Homo sapiens: one gene and its partners. The protein of the gene in region 2 purifies or fractionates together with the protein of the main gene of each other region. This does not show direct contact. Each region holds a gene or a part of one and is shown on either strand. Other genes may lie near its edges.

Evidence for each region. The genes of interacting proteins can lie anywhere in the genome.
Region 1: the proteins of PPM1E (region 2) and TRO purify together in Homo sapiens (affinity purification with mass spectrometry; 2 studies listed by BioGRID and IntAct, with this or other methods). This does not show direct contact.
Region 3: the proteins of PPM1E (region 2) and PSME3IP1 purify together in Homo sapiens (affinity purification with mass spectrometry; 2 studies listed by BioGRID and IntAct, with this or other methods). This does not show direct contact.

The regions. Positions count from the first base shown.
Region 1 is NC_000023.11:54,923,824-54,930,823, forward strand, and holds part of TRO (trophinin), read left to right. Parts: intron 1-627; coding exon 628-732; intron 733-846; coding exon 847-910; intron 911-1,165; coding exon 1,166-1,245; intron 1,246-1,768; coding exon 1,769-1,860; intron 1,861-2,586; coding exon 2,587-2,666; intron 2,667-2,759; coding exon 2,760-2,802; intron 2,803-3,219; coding exon 3,220-3,282; intron 3,283-3,481; exon of another isoform or gene 3,482-3,612; intron 3,613-3,843; coding exon 3,844-3,958; intron 3,959-4,779; coding exon 4,780-7,000. UniProt on the Homo sapiens protein: Could be involved with bystin and tastin in a cell adhesion molecule complex that mediates an initial attachment of the blastocyst to uterine epithelial cells at the time of the embryo implantation. Directly responsible for homophilic cell adhesion.
Region 2 is NC_000017.11:58,968,813-58,975,912, reverse strand, and holds part of PPM1E (protein phosphatase 1E), read right to left. Parts: exon of another isoform or gene 6,375-7,100; coding exon 6,186-6,374; exon of another isoform or gene 5,884-6,185; coding exon of another isoform or gene 5,814-5,883; intron 3,782-5,813; coding exon 3,638-3,781; intron 3,082-3,637; coding exon 2,988-3,081; intron 1-2,987. UniProt on the Homo sapiens protein: Protein phosphatase that inactivates multifunctional CaM kinases such as CAMK4 and CAMK2. Dephosphorylates and inactivates PAK. May play a role in the inhibition of actin fiber stress breakdown and in morphological changes driven by TNK2/CDC42.
Region 3 is NC_000016.10:57,169,040-57,176,039, reverse strand, and holds part of PSME3IP1 (PSME3-interacting protein), read left to right. Parts: exon of another isoform or gene 1-498; coding exon of another isoform or gene 499-501; intron 502-1,019; exon of another isoform or gene 1,020-1,322; coding exon of another isoform or gene 1,323-1,325; intron 1,326-1,351; exon of another isoform or gene 1,352-1,420; intron 1,421-1,434; exon of another isoform or gene 1,435-1,575; coding exon of another isoform or gene 1,576-1,599; intron 1,600-1,749; exon of another isoform or gene 1,750-1,871; intron 1,872-2,054; exon of another isoform or gene 2,055-2,076; intron 2,077-2,170; coding exon of another isoform or gene 2,171-2,185; coding exon 2,186-2,312; intron 2,313-3,165; coding exon 3,166-3,264; intron 3,265-3,667; coding exon 3,668-3,789; intron 3,790-7,000. UniProt on the Homo sapiens protein: Promotes the association of the proteasome activator complex subunit PSME3 with the 20S proteasome and regulates its activity.

The DNA of each region.
Region 1 (7,000 bases), on a different chromosome or scaffold from region 2:
TTCTAGTTTGTTCATTTCTTCTATAAAAGTTTTACTTTGAGCTAGTCCCTGTGTTCAGATAGGCTGTGGAAGATGCTGAGAAGAAGGTGATATAGTTTCTGCTCCCTAGCAGTTCACAGATTGGTGAGGAAATAAGACATCCATACACTCAGCTACAACCTGTATGTAATACTACTTGTATTTAAATAGTAGTTACCACGTGCCAGGCTTTGTGTTGGGTACAGTTACACAGGGTATGTCTGAATGTCTTGAAAGTAACTCTTACCAACAAGGGATCATAGGTCCCAGTTTTACACTTAAGAAAACTGAGTCTCAGAGAAATGAAGTGACTTGTCCAAGAGGTACCAGCCAGCATAATTGGTGGTAGCCAGAGGAAGAGAAAGACCCTTAGGCTCTTATCTTGAGTTGTTCCTGGCCTGGCAGAGGAACGAAACTCCTTCCTGGAAGACAGTGAAAGATAAGCTCAGGACTCAGGGTGGCCAATGGCAAGGTCAGGATCAGGCTCCACTACAGCAAGGCTGAGGGAGGGGGTTAGAGGGACTTTCTGTCTGGAGCAGGCAAGGTGAGGAGACAGAGCCATCTCTTTCACCTGGTGACTCTGGACCTTCCTTCTTTCTGATGATGAAGTCCAAGCATCTGAATGGGGATGAGAGAAGTGGCAGTAATTACAGGCGGATCCCATGGGGCCGGAGGCCTGCACCACCGCGAGATGTGGCCATTTTACAAGAAAGGGTAAGAATCCAATGCTGTCCAGTCTCTTCTCTTCTTCACTTGCCCTCTTCTCTGCCTCCTTCCAAGTTTTCTGCAAGCATGTTAAGATCTCTCCATCTATTCCTCTCCTCCCAGGCTAATAAGTTGGTGAAATACCTGTTGGTTAAGGACCAGACAAAGATCCCCATCAAACGCTCAGGTAGTGTCCTACCAACCCTCCTCCTTGAGCTCTCCTCTCCACTCCCCTCTCCTCCCATAGTCTGGGAGTAACACTTTATGGCCTCTTTGTTCTGTCATATCTCCACACCTGCCCTCCTTGCACTCTGCCATGGCTGGCATCTCCCATTAACTCACTTCAGGTCTCTGATTGCACTGACCCAACAGGACTGGCAAAAGGGCTGCAGCTCTGTGGCCCCTGCTAAGCTCAGCTACTCTCACCTCTCCTTTTCTACAGACATGCTGAGGGATGTCATCCAAGAATATGATGAATATTTCCCAGAAATCATTGAACGAGCAAGCTACACTCTGGAGAAGGTGAAGGGGCAGTGCTGGCGGATGGGCGCAATGGGGAAGCTTTGAATCGAGCAAAGACATACATGTCCCTTTTGGAGAGAATCACAGAAACATGCTAATCCAGCCCCATTACTGTGTGAATGGGCAGACAGTGGCCTAGGGAGAGGTGTAGATTTGCCATGGGTCACACAGCATGTCAGTGATGAAAACATGGCTAGGACAGAAGCCACTCAAATTAGTCTCAGCTTCTATTCATAGTTGGACATATTCTGCATGTATTTCAGATCTCACCTCTCCCTTGTATCCCCATTTTCTGTCTCCCTAGATTCCTGCTCATCACAAAGATGATGTTGATGACAATAGTACATTTGCTGTGTGTTTACTGGGTGCCAGGCACTTGGCTATGTGCTTTATGTGCATTATCTCACTGACTTCTTACACATGCAGACCCCCTAAGTACACTGGGAGTTTTAGGATGCCCGGAAAGTTCACTGATACCTAAGCTGAATTTTGTGATCTCACAGGCTATTCTTTTACTTGGCAGATGTTTCGAGTCAATCTGAAAGAAATTGATAAGCAAAGTAGCTTGTATATTCTCATCAGCACTCAGGAATCCTCTGCAGGCATACTGGGAACGTAAGCTGGGAAAGGGCTGGAGTGGGAAGGAAGCTTCTGCTTTTATCTGTGCTGCTACCCCTTCTTTGTCCTACTTCCCCCATCCTCTTAGAGAGTCAGGAAAAACAGGGTCTCAAAAGCCCTGTCTCAGCACCTGCACATAGTTGGAGCCCTGCTCACAGTAGTGGCACCTGATTATGATTGACTGAAGGGTATAGGAGCCTAGGGTGGGACATTCCTGCTGTCAGGTTTGCTGTCTCTGTAGAAGCTTCCCAGGAAAGCAGGCCTGTCATTGCTTGCCTCTTCCGATGGAGTGCCTGGCCTGGCTTTGACAGAGTGGTTCTCAAGGAGGGCTTCCTGGTGTGGCTGGATCAGTATGCATGAAGCGCAAGAGTGTCAGTGGGGCTGAAGGTTCTGGGAGAGAAAGAAGGGACTCACATTGACTGAGTGCTTGTGTTGTACCAGGTTGACAGCCATTCTTCCATCTTCTTGGCAACCTGAGGAAGGGAGAATATGATTTTCCCATTTTACTGAATAATAGACCAAGGCTTGCAAGGTCTAAGTGCCTTGCCCAGGGTGGCATAGAGCTGGAAGCAGAGACTGGGCAGAATTCTGTATCTGAGGAATCTGGGAGAGGTTAGCCTGGTGAGCTGGCTGGTGTATCTTTTGCGGATGGCTGCTGAAACATAAACCTTCTTTCTGTCCTGTTGAAACATAAACCTTCTTTCTGTCCTGTTATTCCCTTAGGACCAAGGACACACCCAAGCTGGGTCTCCTCATGGTGATTCTGAGTGTCATTTTTATGAATGGCAACAAGGCCAGTGAGGGTGAGTGGCTGGGCATGCAGCTGAATGGGCGGCCATGGTCTGGATTCCATGTGTTCAATTTCTGTCCCTGTCTCCTCTTGCCTCCCCTCACAGCTGTCATCTGGGAGGTGCTGCGCAAGTTGGGGCTGCGCCCTGGGTATGACTGGGCTCTCTCAGCGCTTGCTGTCCGTGTTGTCCTTTGGCAAGAGAGGATGGTCCTAGGATTGCATCAGTCTGGTGGTCTGGTGGAGCGGGTGGGGTGCTGGACTGGGTAGAGGGCCCAGGGTTCTGACCTGGGTGGATGACGGGCAAATGGTCCTGAACTCTCTGCTGTCTCTCTCCTTAATGTCCTCTGTCTGTTCTAAGCTGAGATGTTAGATAGACCTTCAGGGATCCCTGACAAAGAGGCATCTGGTCTTAACTGCTTGCTTCTAGTGGCCATGTGCTCATTACTTTCTTCACTTCATTGAGACTGCCCCATGTGCTAGAGAGGTCTCTTCCATGTTGGGAAATGCCTCTGCCCTCATCTGGGCAGTTCTGATCTGTGTTCATGGGTTATTTTTCCCATTGTCAGGGTGAGGCATTCACTCTTTGGGGAAGTGAGGAAGCTCATCACAGACGAGTTTGTGAAGCAGAAGTAAGTGGTGTTTGGGGCTTTGTCTGGCCCTGAAGTGTTCTGGGTATACTGATCTGGTTCAGAAAGTGCTTAGTCAGTGCCTTTCTTATACTAGCTTTAGAGGGATGGGCATCCTGTGTCCTAGAACTGATACTGTCTAAAATTCCCATGGGCAGACCTTTCCAGGACTGGGCCAGACTCAACACAAGGCCCTTGCAGTGGGGTGCGCTCAGAGCAGAGGGCCTTAAGAATGGCTCCTCTGTTTACAACACACCCAACAGGAATCTGGGCTTACTCCTCACAGGTGGCATGATACTTTGGCCTTCCTGTGACATCATGCCCTATACATGTCTCCCCTGGAGAAGCCCAAGGGACTGCTTTGCACAGGGCCAGTGGGAAATGGCTCAGTATTGGAGGCCAAGACCATAAACTGTGTTTGGTAGTGAGTCTGGGGCTGGAGGGTCTTAGAAATCCCTCTCCAGGGGCTGTTTGTATTTGTTTGGAGGAGGTTGCCACCTGGTGTCTAGTGCTTAGACAGCAGGGTTGCTTGGTTAGAAACAAGTTTCATTTCCTTTTTCCAAGGTACCTGGAGTACAAGAGGGTCCCTAACAGCAGACCACCTGAATATGAGTTCTTCTGGGGCTTGCGCTCCTACCACGAGACTAGCAAGATGAAAGTCCTCAAGTTTGCATGCAGGGTAAGAGGAGAGCTGCCCGAGCTTGGCATATTAAGGCAATGGGATACCCTTGGCTGGGGCAGGCAATGCACAGGGATGGGCAGGTACAGAGCAGCCTGCAGCTCATATATAAACATGTGGAGCCTCCTTTATGTCCCAGGGTGCTGCTAGATATATAGTTTACATCATCTCATTCATTCTTCATACTTTGTATTAATCAGCATGGGCTGCCATAACAAAATACCATAGACTGGGTGGATTAAAAAACAAATTTATTTTCTCATAGTTCTTGAGGGCGAGAATCCTAGGTCAGGGTCCACGAGGGTCAGTTCCTGTTGAAGGCTCTCTTCCTGGCTTGCAGATGGCTGCCTTCTTGCTGTGTCCTCACATGGCTTTGTGTGTGAGAGAGAAGAGAGCAAGCTTTCTGGTGTCTCTTCTTATAAGGACACTAATCCTGTTGATCAGGACCCCACCCTTATGGCCTCATTTAACCTTAATTATCTCCATAAAGGCCCTATCTCCAAGTACAATCACACTGGGTGTTAGGGATTCAACATACGAATTTGGGGGCGGGCACAACCCTTCAGTTCATAACATATTTACGCTCTATCATTTCCTGTAATTATAAAGACACTTAGGCTAAGTGAGGTTAAGTAACTTGTCCAAGGTCATATAGCACGTAAGTCAGCAGAGCTGAAACTGGAGTTCAGAACTGACCCATGATAGAGCCCCAATAACTGAGAAGTTTAAAAAAGTATTGCTACTAGTTTAATACAAAGCCCGTAGGTTAATACATGATTACTAGGGTTGTTTTCTTATTATGATTATCATCCCCATTTCAGGTGCAGAAGAAAGACCCCAAGGACTGGGCTGTGCAGTACCGCGAGGCAGTGGAGATGGAAGTCCAAGCTGCAGCTGTGGCTGTGGCTGAGGCTGAAGCCAGGGCTGAGGCAAGAGCCCAAATGGGGATTGGAGAGGAAGCTGTGGCTGGGCCCTGGAATTGGGATGACATGGATATCGACTGCCTAACAAGGGAAGAGTTAGGCGATGATGCTCAGGCCTGGAGCAGATTTTCATTTGAAATTGAGGCCAGAGCCCAAGAAAATGCAGATGCCAGCACCAACGTCAACTTCAGCAGAGGAGCTAGTACCAGGGCTGGCTTCAGCGATGGTGCTAGTATTAGCTTCAATGGTGCACCCAGCTCCAGTGGTGGCTTCAGTGGTGGACCTGGCATTACCTTTGGTGTTGCACCCAGCACCAGTGCCAGCTTCAGCAATACAGCCAGCATTAGCTTTGGTGGTACACTGAGCACTAGCTCCAGCTTCAGCAGCGCAGCCAGCATTAGCTTTGGTTGTGCACACAGCACCAGCACTAGTTTCAGCAGTGAAGCCAGCATTAGCTTTGGTGGCATGCCTTGTACCAGTGCCAGCTTTAGTGGTGGAGTCAGCTCTAGTTTTAGTGGCCCACTCAGCACCAGTGCCACTTTCAGTGGTGGAGCCAGCTCTGGCTTTGGAGGCACACTCAGCACCACGGCTGGCTTTAGTGGTGTACTCAGCACTAGCACCAGCTTTGGCAGTGCACCCACAACGAGCACAGTCTTCAGTAGTGCGCTTAGCACCAGCACTGGCTTTGGAGGCATACTCAGCACCAGTGTCTGTTTTGGTGGCTCTCCCAGCTCCAGTGGTAGCTTTGGTGGTACACTCAGTACCAGTATCTGCTTCGGTGGCTCTCCCTGCACCAGCACTGGCTTTGGAGGCACACTTAGCACCAGTGTCTCCTTTGGTGGCTCTTCCAGCACCAGTGCCAATTTTGGTGGTACACTAAGTACCAGCATCTGCTTTGATGGCTCTCCCAGCACTGGTGCTGGCTTTGGTGGTGCTCTCAACACCAGTGCCAGCTTTGGCAGTGTGCTCAACACCAGTACTGGTTTTGGTGGTGCTATGAGCACCAGTGCTGACTTTGGCGGTACACTAAGCACCAGTGTCTGCTTTGGTGGCTCTCCTGGCACCAGTGTCAGCTTTGGCAGTGCACTCAACACCAATGCTGGTTATGGTGGTGCTGTCAGCACCAACACTGACTTTGGTGGTACACTAAGCACCAGCGTCTGTTTTGGTGGCTCTCCCAGCACCAGTGCTGGCTTTGGTGGTGCACTCAACACCAATGCCAGCTTTGGCTGTGCCGTCAGCACCAGTGCCAGCTTCAGTGGTGCTGTCAGCACCAGTGCTTGCTTCAGTGGTGCACCAATCACCAACCCTGGCTTTGGCGGTGCATTTAGCACCAGTGCTGGCTTCGGTGGGGCACTTAGTACCGCTGCTGACTTCGGTGGTACTCCCAGCAACAGCATTGGCTTTGGTGCTGCTCCCAGCACCAGTGTCAGCTTTGGTGGTGCTCATGGCACCAGCCTCTGTTTTGGTGGAGCTCCCAGCACCAGCCTCTGCTTTGGCAGTGCATCTAATACTAACCTATGCTTTGGTGGCCCTCCTAGCACCAGTGCCTGCTTTAGTGGTGCTACCAGCCCTAGTTTTTGTGATGGACCCAGCACCAGTACCGGTTTCAGCTTTGGCAATGGGTTAAGCACCAATGCTGGATTTGGTGGTGGACTGAACACCAGTGCTGGCTTTGGTGGTGGCCTAGGCACCAGTGCTGGCTTCAGTGGTGGCCTAAGCACAAGTTCTGGCTTTGATGGTGGGCTAGGTACCAGCGCTGGCTTCGGTGGAGGACCAGGCACCAGCACTGGTTTTGGTGGTGGACTGGGCACCAGTGCTGGCTTCAGTGGCGGACTGGGCACCAGTGCTGGCTTTGGTGGTGGACTGGTCACTAGTGATGGCTTTGGTGGTGGACTGGGCACCAATGCTAGTTTCGGCAGCACACTTGGCACCAGTGCTGGCTTTAGTGGTGGCCTCAGCACCAGCGATGGCTTTGGCAGTAGGCCTAATGCCAGCTTCGACAGAGGACTGAGTACCATCATTGGCTTTGGCAGTGGTTCCAACACCAGCACTGGCTTTACTGGCGAACCCAGCACCAGCACGGGCTTCAGTAGTGGACCCAGTTCTATTGTTGGCT
Region 2 (7,100 bases):
CATCAGTTGATACCCTCCTCCATATTCCTTTTTAGCTCTCCTCATCTCTGTAACAAACTGTATGAATGTCTCCCAGCCAGGCTCTTTCTACTCTAGCCCAGCTTCCATACAAATATCTTTATAAATACAAAGCTGACCCTGTGGCCCCTCTGCGTATTCACCTGGTAAAGTCCAGACTACTTAGCCTCGCACATAAGGCCCTTTGCAATCTGGCACCAACACTGCTAATCTACCACTCCCATCTCTGCTCTAACCTCCTGGACTTGTTGCTTTTCCTAAAACATGCCATGCCTTTTCAAACCCCTGTGTATTTATATTTCCCTCTACCTGTGTAGGGATTTCCTTCCCAGCACATTATCCTCCACATTCAACTCAAAAGTCACTCTATGTATGAAGTCTCCCTTATCCACTCTTAGATTGTTTATTTTTTATTATTAAAATAGAGATGAGGTATCACTATGTTGCCCAGGTTGGTCTCAAAATCCTGGGCTCAGGCATTCCTCCCTCCTTGGCCTTCCACAGTGCTGGCTGCCATACCCAGCCTTTTCTCTGAGATTGTCACTTATTAAGGGACATTCTTCCCTGCTTTGGTTTTCCCTTTTAGAAGAAGAAGCTGGTATTCTCTATTAAGTTAGTTCTGTAACAAGTATTAAAGATGATCCTCAATCCTCTGACAAAGGTCAGATCAGGAGAAATAGGTGTTTGGTTTGAGTTGTAAACCTAATTCACTGGCCACTCAAGCACTCATATAATGATCATTAACGTAAATTGGTTCCACAGATAGTATAGTCCTCTGGTTCGGTGATTTTCAGTCAAGGGTAGCATTTGATGGGTAGTGGGTCCTGCTAAACCTACAATGTGCATGATAAAGACTTTTCCCCACCAATAATAATAATAATAATTCCATATAAGGGTATATTTTAGAAATGAGACATTTCCCCTTTTTGGCCTTATTCTAGAGTTCCTAATAATTCCCTCCAGTCTAAGGTCAAGCCAAATCTCAATTTTTCAGGAGGTATTTGTAGACTCTTTTAGCTATTTCTCTTTCAGCTTTCTACTCATATTTGGGCCACTTCACAGCTTGCTAGCACCTTCCCAAAGAGTGGGAGGAACTCAAATCAGTGGTGAAAGCTAAATCCTTTCAGATTTTCTTCATGTTCTGGAATTTTTGGTAATTTTTAACTAAATTTTGAGACTAGATGTGAATTCCAACCATGTCTAATTACTTCATTTCTTTAGGGAAGCAGAGATTAAAAACTGCAGTATACATGTAATGTACATATCACCCATATAGATATACATATTGATTTATTCTTTTTTAAAAAAACAGGAAGTGAAGCTAAGCCATGAAGCCTAAAATAATAAACCCAGGGCCCAAAGTGAGACAAAGACAGAAATAGCTTAATTCTTTGAACTTATACCCTTGTATTTTGTCCAGCCAACTTAGCTGTTTAATCTCTACGTTTTAGACCGAGTTTCATTGACTTTCCCTTCTTTTGAAAAATTTAAGTCCCAGGGATATAGGGTTCTTTGAAACTCCAGGGTTATCTGACAGGTGACTGTATTCCACATACAGAAAGTAGTTTTCATATAAAAAGCACAATGCTTTTCCTATCAACTTATTCTGTTATTTATGTCATTTTAAAATTCATGGAAATAATTTAGAGGCATAAACAAAATGAATGTGGATAAAATACGGAGAAAGGCTTCCATTCTCTGAAAAATACTGATTTGACCCAAAATGCAATGAAATGAGAAACACTATGATTTTTTGTTTTTGTTTTAAGACAGGATCTCACTCCCTTGGCCCAGGCTGGAGTGCAGTGGCACAATCTTGGCTCACTGCAGCCTCAAACTCCTGGACTCAAGCAATCCTTCCGCCTCAGCCTCCTGTGTACTAGGACTACAGGCACAAGCCACTACGCCCAGCAATTTTTTTTTTTTTTTTTTTTTTTTTTTTTGAGATGGAGTCTCGCTCTGTCGCCCAGCCTGGAGCGCAGTGGCGCGATCTCGACTCACTGCAACCTCCGCCTCCCAGATTCAAGTGATTCTCCTGCCTCAACCTCCCAAGTAGCTGGGACTACAGACGTGTGCCACAACACCCAGCTAATTTTTTATATTTTTAGTAGAGACGGGGATTCATCGTGTTAGCCAGGATGGTCTCCATCTCCTGACCTCATGATCTGCCCACCTCAGCCTCCCAAAGTGCTGGGAATACAGGCGTGACCCACTGCGCCCGGCCTTTGTTTTTTTTGTTTTTTGTTTTTTTAAGAGATGAAGTCTTACTATGTTGCCCAGGCTGGTCTTTAACTCCTGGGCTCAAACCCTCTTCAGCCTCCCAAAGTGCTGGGATTACAGGCGTGAGCCACTGTGCCTGTCCCAACCACTGTGGTTTGAAGCAGATTTGGGTACTGATTAAAGGCTTCCATAAAATTTTAAATGTATAGAAACTAGAAAATTCTGCATTTCTTGATATGGTTCTCTTTTTTTTTTTTTTTGAGACAGTCTCACACTGTCACCCAGGCTGGCGTGCAATGGCGCGATCTCCACTAGCTGCAACCTCTGCTTCCCAGGTTCAAGCAATATTCCTGCCTCAGCCTCCCAAGTAGCTGGGATTACAGGCGCCCGCCACCACGCCTGGCTAATTTTTTGTATTTTTAATAGAGATGGGGTTTCACTATGTTGGCCAGGCTGGTCTTGAACTCCTGACCTCGTGATACACCCGCCTCGGCCTCCCAAAGTGTTGGGATTACAGGCATGAGCCACTGAGCCTGGCAGTTCTCTTTCAATAATGGAATTTAAGTATATAAATGTACAGGTTTAACTAAATCAAACAATTAAAAGAGACGTTATCCAATTATTATTTTAAAGAATAATAAGCATTCTGGTAACATAAATTATCATCTCAGGTTCCCTGTATCAGAGTTGATACAGGAGAATGAGCTAGAAGAGGACAGTTTGGAGAAACAAAAATTTGTTTTTCCTACCAATAGCTCTGGAAACCGACAGACTTCCATTCACCCTCCAGGCACCAAACCAGACTACGCAACCTCCAAGGGCCTCAATTCTCTGCTTTTCATCCTAAACAGCAATGCAATAAAAAGAAGCAAATAACTGGATTCAGGATTTATTCATTTACTTTAACAGTAAACAACAGATATAATACTCATCAGCTCATGAAAAGGTTCTCTTTGTTTCTCCATTGGAGGGTGGGCACAGTTGCTGATGTGATAGCAATAATTGTAATAATTAAGTGAATCCTGGCCGGGCGCGGTGGCTCACGCCTATAATCCCAGTACTTTGGGAGGCCGAAGCAGGCAGATCACCTGAAGTCAGGAGTTCAAGACCAGCCTGGCCAACATGGTGAAACCCCGTCTCTACTAAAAATACAAAAATTAGCTGGGCGTGGTGGCACATGCCTGTAATCCCAGCTACTCGGGAGGCTGAGGCAGGAGAATCGCTTGAACCCAGGAGGCGGAGGTTGCAGTGAGCCAAGATCACACCATTGCACTCCAGCCTGGGCAACAGAGTGAAACTCCATCTCAAAAAAAAAAAAAGTAAGTGAATCCTAATCAATAACTAGAAAATCTAAACTAATAACTAGAGCATGGGCTCTATTAAAACAGACCATACTTACCTCTCTGTCTGGTTTGTGTGGCTTCATTAGTTCAACAGCTTGGCCCTTTCTCACAAGCATAACCTGGGAATCACCCACCCAGGCCACATGTAGCATGTTGCCTCTGATGAAAGTCACCACTCCTGTGGTCCCACATCTTAAGCTCTGAAAACAGTTTAAATAAAACTAGACTCAGTGAAAAGAAATAGATACTACATTCTTATTGAGAAGCAATTTATAATTAAGCTTTTCAGCTGGGAGCTATACTATTAATAATGGAATTTCACACATATATAATAATTCATTGTCTCAATGCATTTGTATATGCATGTATGTATTTATGTGTATATACACACATAAGTCCACCTGATCTGTGATATGCAGGGCGAGGATGATTATTAATTCCACTTTAAATATAGATAAGAAAACTATGGCAGGTTATGTGACTTGCCCAAGGGCAGGTAACTATTAGTATATAAGACAGAATTGAAATTCTTTTTCCTCCCAGTCAAGCACTAAATCCTCTATACCAATCCTCAGAGTAAAAATTTCTATATTCTGCTCTCCATTTCATTACTGACATCGTATTTGTTCAGTGGGAGAGTCCTAGCTGTATAAAATGATATATAAAACATCTGATTGGTACACAACAGATGCTCTAATCTCTGGAAATTAAGCTAAGGGGCCAAGAGACAGCTTACGTTCCCTGGAGTACTAAGATGCTTATACCTTTAAAAAAATATCCTTCCTACAGTATTTTTAGGGGTCTTTGCTTTTGGAACATTGCATAAAGAACTAACAGCCTGGAATTTCACTGCAGTAGCTACGACTGTACTTAAAGCTCTTGGTCCTACTATACGAAAATGACATCCCCATTTGACATGAGTCACCACCAAATGAGCATGACTTTCTGTTACTAAGGACCTGGCCTAAATTAGAACCAATGCGTCAGGGGTGGTAAAAGGTCTCTTGTATCCAATGAGAAAAACAACTTCTCGTTTTCCCTATATAGGGAAAGTTTGTTATAAATCCTCACCCACCAATAAAATGTCTTCCCACACAGAATGTTCAAAAACTCAGCCCCCTAGAACACATGATAAACACACTTCAGTGCATATGCCCTGGAGAGAACAGGAGGCAGGGCTGCTTCATAACAGGAATAGCTGTTTTCTTCCCAGCAGTTAGCAGCACATGGAAGCATAAGAAGGAGAAAAGGGGCGCTGAGACAAACCTAAATTATTCAGAACTATTGGCAGAACTGAGAGACACCAGGGTCACTGACAAAACAAATGAGGTAAACATGGTCAGAAAACAACAACAACAACAACAACACATAATTTTGAGAAGACAGAGGAAAAAAAGAATAGAATAGAGGATGAAGAAGACAGAGTGAATCTCTTTGTTTCACATTGATGATTACGGGTCACCTCTCAGGGGCCGGCCCTTGTCCTCGACTCAGATGATAAAAGCCCACAGCTTCAAGAGAGGCAGAGCCAAGCAGAATGCAGGTCCTCAAGAGACTGGAGCTCTGAGGTCAAGAGTGGCTTTATTCTCCAGACCCACCTCTTTGTGTGGACTCTACTGGTTACTGTTGGATTTGCATATTAATCCAAACTTAGGGGAGGGGAGAGATGAAGAATAATTCTCTTTCTTAATACCAAATAGGTCTGAGTTATTGTTTCATTAATTCTAAGCCCCATTATTGCTTGTAGCATAACTATGCTATCAAAAAATGGATTAAATGATTACCCTGATCTCTCCAAGCCCATTTTAAAAAGAGTTAATGTTTAAGTCACAGGGCAGGAGTCTTATTTTTTGTCTGTATCTACTTCTGTAATTATTTTTAAAAATTAAAAATTCTTTTATTCGTCCCCAGTTAAAAATCCAATATAGAACACTGTAGTTAATTATGTACCAATACCCAGAACGATAATTAGATTAATTTTTTTACTTTTAGACCTTAATATAGAGCCCTTGCCATTTATTCAAAGTAAAAAAAACTTAGGTCTGATTAACCTTCGCAATGTAGGACATGAGCTCTTCTTTTCTCCCTATTAAGAGAAAAATCAGCTCAAGGATCATTTAAGGATTCACCCTCTCCAAGCGAATTTTCCCTCAAGAGATACACAGCAAAACACTGCCTACCCATTTAGAACCAAATGTATGGAAGTAATCCCAGTTTCTGTTTCTTTTTTAGACCATTGTTTTATTCACCATATCCAGATCTTGTCAGCAAGAGTCTGCTTAGAGAGATGGTCCTGGTGTGAACCTGACAGGCAATGGTGAATAAAAGAAAGATGAAACTCACCTGCCAAATCCAGCAGTTATTACAGAAATGAATCCAGAAAATTACAGCTTGAGATTTTCTATACAGTACCTCATTGTACCCCCTGAAACTCTTCCTGAGGAGGGAATTGGAACTACAACAGAATCCAATACTGTGAGTCAAGAATACAGTTTGGATAATGTCTGCCCAGAAAGAGAAAATCTAAATAGCCCTTTAACCACACAGACCAAATTGAGCTCAGCTAGTACATTTCTAGCTGGAACTTATGAGAAAGGGGCATACCTCCCTGGCTGCTTTCTGCACAAACCGCTCATCAGTGACCCGGAAGGCCCTGCACAGGGCCTCAGCAGGATCATGGGGGAACATCTCCTGGCGGACTAAGTTAACGTGGAGGTGAATGGAGGCATAAATAGCAGCATCTACTCCCCCATGGCCATCAAACACTGCAAAGTAAGCTTGTTCTTCCTGGTCCTGTCAACAGAAACACAGAACAGTTATGGGAGTTGGGTATAGCATGATTCAAATGAACCAATCTCCTGGCATCATTGTTGCCCATCCTTTCTCCTCCACTGCATTTGTCATTCAGAATAATGAGACTAAATGTTTTCCTTCTCTAACATGCCTGATCAACTGCTGAAATACCTGCAATATTAGGGTATCTGTGTTTACACACCAGAACACTGGAACATGTCATGCCCAATTAGCTCAAGCTGAAGTGCCCTCTCTCTGTGAAAGTTGTTGTCTTGTACCATGGAAACCACCCACGTACATTTGCTTCAAAATTGCTGTTACAAGTTGGGGGAGGGGGGATAGGGAGGGTATGAGAAGGAATTGAACAAAAGCAGCTCCAGATTGAGTGATTTTTTTCAAAATGAAAGTACTTTAATAGCAAAATTAGAACCTGAGAACAATAGAAAATAACTGGTCTTCCAACACAAGGCCAATTAAATCAAGTTTAAAATATATAAAGATATGAAAGCATAAACATACTTCTAAACTATAATACCTTCTTCATAAATCATTCCCAGTCACACTGCATTCTCACCACAAATAGCACAGCATCTCTAAACTAGTTTACCAAACTTGAACCACATCAGATGCTCAAATGCCCTGTGCGGCTGACCACTTTGCCTCACCCCATGATCTAAGATTTTAGTTTCACATTTCCTTGCAAAGTAAACTGCCAGAGGAGGATCT
Region 3 (7,000 bases), on a different chromosome or scaffold from region 2:
TCCAGGTTGTGGGCTTTAGGTGGGAGCAACAGCGTCTGTCAGTTGATTTCATTTCTTTCTAGTAATTTTCACAATTCGCTCTTATTGTTACATTAAACTAAACCTCAGCAACAGTAGTATTCAGGCTGAGACTATTCTCTTGTTCTGAACGTTTGGGTTTGTTTTTTCAGCTTCCATTTCTAGCTTTACTAAATAAAAATGTTGCATGAATATTCTCAGCACTGGAATTTGAAGTAGGAAGAAAGCTGAAGTCGACATGTCTTTGTTTTCAACTAAGATTTAGTGTTTTCTGGGGAGGAGTATGGTAAAGTTGGTAAGAGTATGCATTTTTGATATCAGGCCTGGATTTGGTTCTCAGCTCTACCATTCACCACCTGTATCACCTTAGACAAATAATCTAACTCCTCTGGACCTCAACTTCATCTGTAAACAGATAATATTTCTCATAGGGTCAATGATCATGTAAATTAGATAATATCCATAAAAGGAATATAATACATGGTAAGAGCTCATTAACTGTTAGCTGCTTTATTTTTGTGGTAGCGTGGAAACTTACTGTTTTTGTTGTTAGTGGTTATCTTGGAATGGACATTGGATTGAATATGTGCCTCCTTGTTAGCACATAGTGCTGTGAATAACATGTCTGGGTAGGGGTTAATTCCACAGTTACTCAAAAGGAAAGAAACCAATAAAGAAAAACAGAGGTTTAGTTTAAAAGGAGTAATATGGCCAGGTGCGGTGGCTCACCCCTGTAATCCCAGCACTTTGGGAGGCCTAGGCGGGCAGATCACGAGTTCAGGAGTTCGAGACAAGCCTGGCCAACATAGTGAAACCCCATCTCTACTAAAAATTCAAAAATTAGCTGGGCGTGTTGGCACACGCCTGTAGTCCCAGCTAGTCAGGAGGCGGAGGCAGGAGAATCGCTTGAACCTGGGAGGCGGAGGTTGCAGTGAGCTGAGATTGCACCACTGGACTCCAGCTTGGGTGACAGAACGAGACTTCATCTCAAAAAAAAAAAAAAAAGGAGTAATAAGTAATATACACTCTGCTATCTTTATTTCCTTCTCTCCTCTTTGAAGAAAAGCTCAGGTAGAAATAACAGATTCGGTAATCTTCTGTGTCAAAATATGCATAAAATGGTTGAGGTGATTGTGGGAGTGAGAAAAGAGAAGGATTGAAGTTCAAATCTTAAATGGCACAGACAAGGGGTTTACAGGGAGGAAGGTCAGAAGAGATATAAATGAAGAGTCAGATTAGTATTCAGGAAAGTACGTGGAACTGAAGTTGGGAGATCTGTTCTTCCAGTCTCACTTTCTCCATTCATGGTTTGTGCACCTTCCCTGCTATACAGACTGGACTTGAACACTAAGTCTTCAATAGCTGAGATTCTCCATCTTAATCTACTTGGAGGCAAGAGCAGGTGAATCAAGATAGTGTAATGTCTCAGAAACAGGAATTTCAAGAAGAAACAATGTCAGATGTTACAGAAATAAAGGAGGATGAGAGCTGGGAAAAGGATGGGATGCTCAGGAGGCCAATTTTTCTAGATTAGAGGGACAGAGAAATAGCTGCAATATGAGATTTACTATGGAACACCAGGTAATAAGAATTATCCCAGGTCCTCTTGCCAACTGTGTAGATAACATCGATGTTAATAAAAATTCTCTGATATGTCAGGAAAAATGTATTCATGTGCTTTCATCAATGGCCTATAAATTAAACTATTTGAGAGTTTTTTTTTTTTTTGAGACAGAATCTTGCCCTGTCGCTCAAGCTGGGGTGCAGCGGTGTGATCTTGGCTCACTGCAACCTCCGCCTCCCAGGTTCAAGCGATTCTCCTGCCTCAGCCTCCTGAGTAGCTGGGATTACAGGTGCGTGCCACCGTGCCTGGCTAATTTTTGTATTTTTAGTAGAGACGGGGTTTCACCATGTCAGTCAGGATGGTCTTGAACTCCTGACCTCGTGATCCATGCGCCTCGGCCTCCCAAAGTGCCAGGATTACAGGCATGAGCCACCGCACCCGGCCGAGAATTTTTTCAATTCAAAGTTGGAAGATAATTTTTAGTTTGTTGCTGGGTGAGATGGAGCTAAATCTCCTTGTTTCTCTTTAGAATTTTAATTGCAGTTCTCACTTGAAATGATTTTTTTTGTTTTTGTTTTTGTTTTGTAGATTGGTTGTTTCATTATGGATGGAGGGGATGATGGTAACCTTATTATCAAAAAGAGGTTTGTGTCTGAGGCAGAACTAGATGAACGGCGCAAAAGGAGGCAAGAAGAATGGGAGAAAGTTCGAAAACCTGAAGATCCAGAAGGTATACTGTGACAGTCAGTATAATGGTCTTTAATCCACACAGCAACCCTGCAGAGTAGGTATTAATTGTCCTCACTTGGTTTTATTTATTTATTTTTTTGAGACGGAGTCTCACTCTGTTGCCCAGGCTGGAGTGCAGTGGCGCGATCTTGGCTCACTGCAACCTCTGCCTCCCAGGCTCAGGAGATTCTCCTGCCTTAGCCTTCCGAGTAGTTGGGATTACAGGCACCAGCCACCACGCCTGGCTAATTTTTGTATTTTTGGTAGAGATGGAGTTTCATCTGTTGGCCAGGCTGGTTCCAAACTCCTGAGCTCAAGCCATCCTCCTGCCTCGGCCTCCCAAAGTGCTGGGATTACAGGTGTGAGCCACCATGCCTGGCCAATTGTCCATACTTTAGAGTTGAGGAACTGAGACTCAGGGGCGAAGTCACCTATGTAAGGTCCTGCACAGCTGGGAGCAGAGCCAGCATACTCACATCCTGCTTCTTTTCTGCCTACCACACTTCCTTCCAAGAGATTCTGCTCCTCTCCTCCATCTATACAGGTGGATCCATGGTCTGAACAACTGAGAACACTGCTGCTGTGGAGGGTTTGGGCTGGCCCCTCAATCAGTTAACTGTCTCAGGCCATGGGCGCTATTGACATTGATAGTTGGCTTTGAGAACTGGTGGCCCCTCTCTGAGGTCCAAAGGGAAACTGGACTTTGTACTATTTTTGTGTTATCCACACCCTCAGATCATGCAGAGACTTGACTTTGTCTTTAAAACCTTTTGTGATTCCAAAATAATATGAAAACAATCTGAAGTGTATATCTCCTCCCCGTCCACCTCTCTCCCCTCTCCTTTTCCTTTCAGAATGTCCAGAGGAGGTTTATGACCCTCGATCTCTATATGAAAGGCTACAGGAACAGAAGGACAGGAAGCAGCAGGAGTACGAGGAACAGTTCAAATTCAGTAAGCTTCAGAAAACAGAGAGTTCAAGGGGCTCTGTGGGGTACTTTTGACGCACTTTTGCCTTGTGCAGCACTTTTCCTAACTAGCCGTGGAATTGTCTTGATTTTCGAGTCTCCGGATGCTTATTTGGTGGAAAAGAGACAGCCTTCAGCCTTCTAGACCACATTGAATATTTTTGTTTAGAGCTCAAAACACCCATTTTAATTCTATGGTAATATTTAGTAATGGGAAAAAATGCCTTGTTTTTTTTTATGCCCTGTTATCTATTCAAACGCCATGGTATTTACCAGTTCTTTTTTTTTTAATCCCCTGAAGAATCTGCTGCTTATTTAAAAAGGGGAAAGGAAAAATCTTATTTTTCCCTTTAGCCTGCTAAGTGTGCCTTGTTTAATTATTTCCTCAGAAAACATGGTAAGAGGCTTAGATGAAGATGAGACCAACTTCCTTGATGAGGTTTCTCGACAGCAGGAACTAATAGAAAAGCAACGAAGAGAAGAAGAACTGAAAGAACTGAAGGAATACAGAATATCCTTTGTACTTGGAGGAAAACCTGTAAGGTGTCCATTTTCTCATCAGCATCTATGGATGTTGTCTCCTCATCAACAGAAAGAGGGTTTTCTACCTGGTGATCTCTCAAGTCCCTTTGAACACTGATATTCCTGTAATTCTGAAAAGCTGGTAGTGGTTTGTGGAGTTTGTGTTGTGTGCAAGAGTGTTATAGTCAAAAGTCCACATCCTTCTTAGGGTTAACTCAAGGCATCAATCCTACTAGTACTGGGATTAGATTCTGACACAGGTGGGCAGTGCAGTCAGCTTCATCCAGGGGAGAAATTGGGCTCTGAGTTTTAAAAGAACATGTTTAGCAACTTTCCTATATTCTTAGTAAGATGTTCTCTAGTGGTATAGCATGCCCTGTCCTGATAGAAGGGCTGAGAAAGCAGCAAAGATGACTTTGCTCTAGATCAGTGTTGCCTTTTGGTCATCCACTTGAATGTCTTCATAGACATCCCAAATGAAACTTGGCTGAATCAAAATTCTCAATACTGTGCCACATCACCCCCACTCTCATCACACTGCCCTTCCCCAAAGTCTCTTCTTTTTCTGGTCCTCCCAGTCCCAGTAACTGGTAGTCCTATGCCTCCAGGTGCCTGGGCCAAGAACTGTTTCCAAAACGTACTCCAAATCTCTTGAATTGTTGGTATCTACTGCTACTGTAGTAGTAGTAGACTTTCTTCTCGACTCCTGTGACCATCTAATTGGTTTGTTTCTGCTCTCATCCTCAATAATCTATTCCTTAGACAAGAAAGGGAACTTTAAAAACCATACATGGCATCATGTCACTTTTCTATTTGAAACAGTCTAGTGGGTTCCCCTTACATTTAGACTAAAGTCTTACTCTGTATCAGGCCGTAGAAGGTTCTACATTATTTAGGCCAACCCGCCTCCTTCTTGCATCTTGAAGCCACTCTTTCTCATGTTGACTGTACTGCAGCCTGCTGGCCTTCTTTATGTTCTCTTTCACCATGCTTTCTGAGTCAATCTCAGGGCCTCAGACTTGCTGTTTCCTCAGCCCAAAATGTTCTGCCCTCAGATTTTGCAAGATGCATTTCACAGCTCAGCCCTCTGCTCAGCTCTCCCTTTTAGAAACCTTCCCTAAGCACCCCACCTAAAATTGCTGTCGGTAATATCAATTTTTTTTTTTGAGATGGAGTTTCTCTCTTGTTGCCCAGGCTGGACTGCAGTGGCGCGATCTCGTCTCACTGCAACCTCCGCCTCCCGGGTTCAAGCGATTCTCCTGTCTCAGCCTCCCAAGTAGCTGGGGTTACAGGTGCATGCCACCACGCCCAGCTAATTCTTGTATTTTTAGTAGAGACGAGGTTTCATCATATTGGTCAGGCTGGTCTCGAACTCGTTACCTCAGGTGATCCGCCCACTCCAGCATCCCAAAGTGCAGGGATTACAGGCGTAAGCCACCGCACCCAGCAAGTAATATCATTTTTTATAGATTTGTCACTATCTGAAAGTTGTCTTTATTTATTTGCCTACTGGTTTGTTTATCTCTTTCCTGCTAGAATGTAAAGTAAATGAGCTCCATAAGAAAAAAGACTATCTGACTTGGTCACTTCTGATTTCTCCAGTGCCTGGCATATAGTAGATTCTCAGTAAATATGTGAATAAATTAATAAATGATTCATAGGAGATATTAATAGGACCATTTATCTTCATGTGAGGAAGCTTATTTGGATATTTCAAGCTTATATGTTGAGTAACATCACTGGTGTAATCCAACAGGCTTCACGTCTAAGATGGACGACATTACTGTGTATATGTACTAGTTGGTATTTTCTTGCAGAGAATGTGCAGCACATTCCATTTTAAGAGTTACGTGGGAGGCCTGGACACAGTGGCTCACGCCTTTGATTCCAGCACTTTGGGAGGCCGAGGCAGGAGGATCGCTTGAGGTCAGGAGTTTGAGACCAGCCTGGCCAAAATGGTGAAACCCTGTCTCTGCTAAAAATACAAAAATTAGCCGGGCATGGTGGCTTGTGCCTGTAGTCCCAACTACTCAGGAGGCTGAGGCAGGAGAATCGCTTGAACCTGGAAGGTGGAGATTGCAGTGCGCCAAGGTCACGCCACTGTACTCCAGGCTGGGGACAGAGCAAGACTTTATCTTAAAAAAAAAAAAAAAAAAAAGCGTTGTATGGGAGAAGACATGGACAGATTCCCTGATTCCCTGGGAATTGATTTACATCAGAACTGGTAGGAAAAGACCTGGCTTCCAGTCCCAGTTCTGTTACTGGCATTCAGGTGCAACATGGAGATGGAAGCTCATGGGAAGTTATACCTCAATCTCAACTGTAGGATTGAGGCTGATTATTCTGAACTCCCCCTTCCCTGACCCTGATGACCCCAAAATAATATGTGTTCGTTTGTAGAGATAGGCAGATACCCATATTGTGTTGTTTCAGACACCAAGCTTTTTCCTCTAAGGAAATACATTCATTACACTTCTCACTTGAATGATATTATGTTTTATTTTGGTAGACTAGCAAATAAGACATATAGTGTCCCCCAAAGTAGCATCTGGGGAGAAGTGCTGTTGAGTGTGAGATGCCCTTTGGTTTTCAATTAAAAGGAAAGAATGAACAGGGCAGCAGTGAGACAAAAGAAACCTTTGTGTCCTGGTAACATTGCAGTACAATGAGGCTCCAGGGATAAGGGCTTTAACTGGAAACTTGGAAAGTTCTGTCTAGAAAAACTGAAGAAAAGCAGGCCTTCCAAGTCACTGACATCTAATACACTAATCCCAAGCATGCAAGTAGCCAGAGACATGTTGAGATAGGAATTGAAGGATTAGACATTTGTTTATTGAAGCTCTAAGTTAGGAACTGTTTCTAGGCTTTGCTTGATTACTATATGATATGTTGTATAATAGGATACTTCTGAATACAAATAAGCTGTGGTTTAAACCATGTAAATAACAGAACTCTTGTTTCGTCTCAGGTTAAACCAGTATTTAGCAGTATTGTGTATGTTAAAAAACGGTGCAATTTTAAGAGAATGCTGATCTAATGAATTTCTTGAGATTTTTGAGGTGTGTTTGTGTTTTTAAAGCATTTTGGGAGAAGAGGGGCTTAAGAAGGAAAAATTGCTTGTACTTTGCGGATCAAAAATAAGATTATTAACACCCCCTACCCCTAAAAGGTTAGGACTTTTCTTCATTTCAAAAGAATAA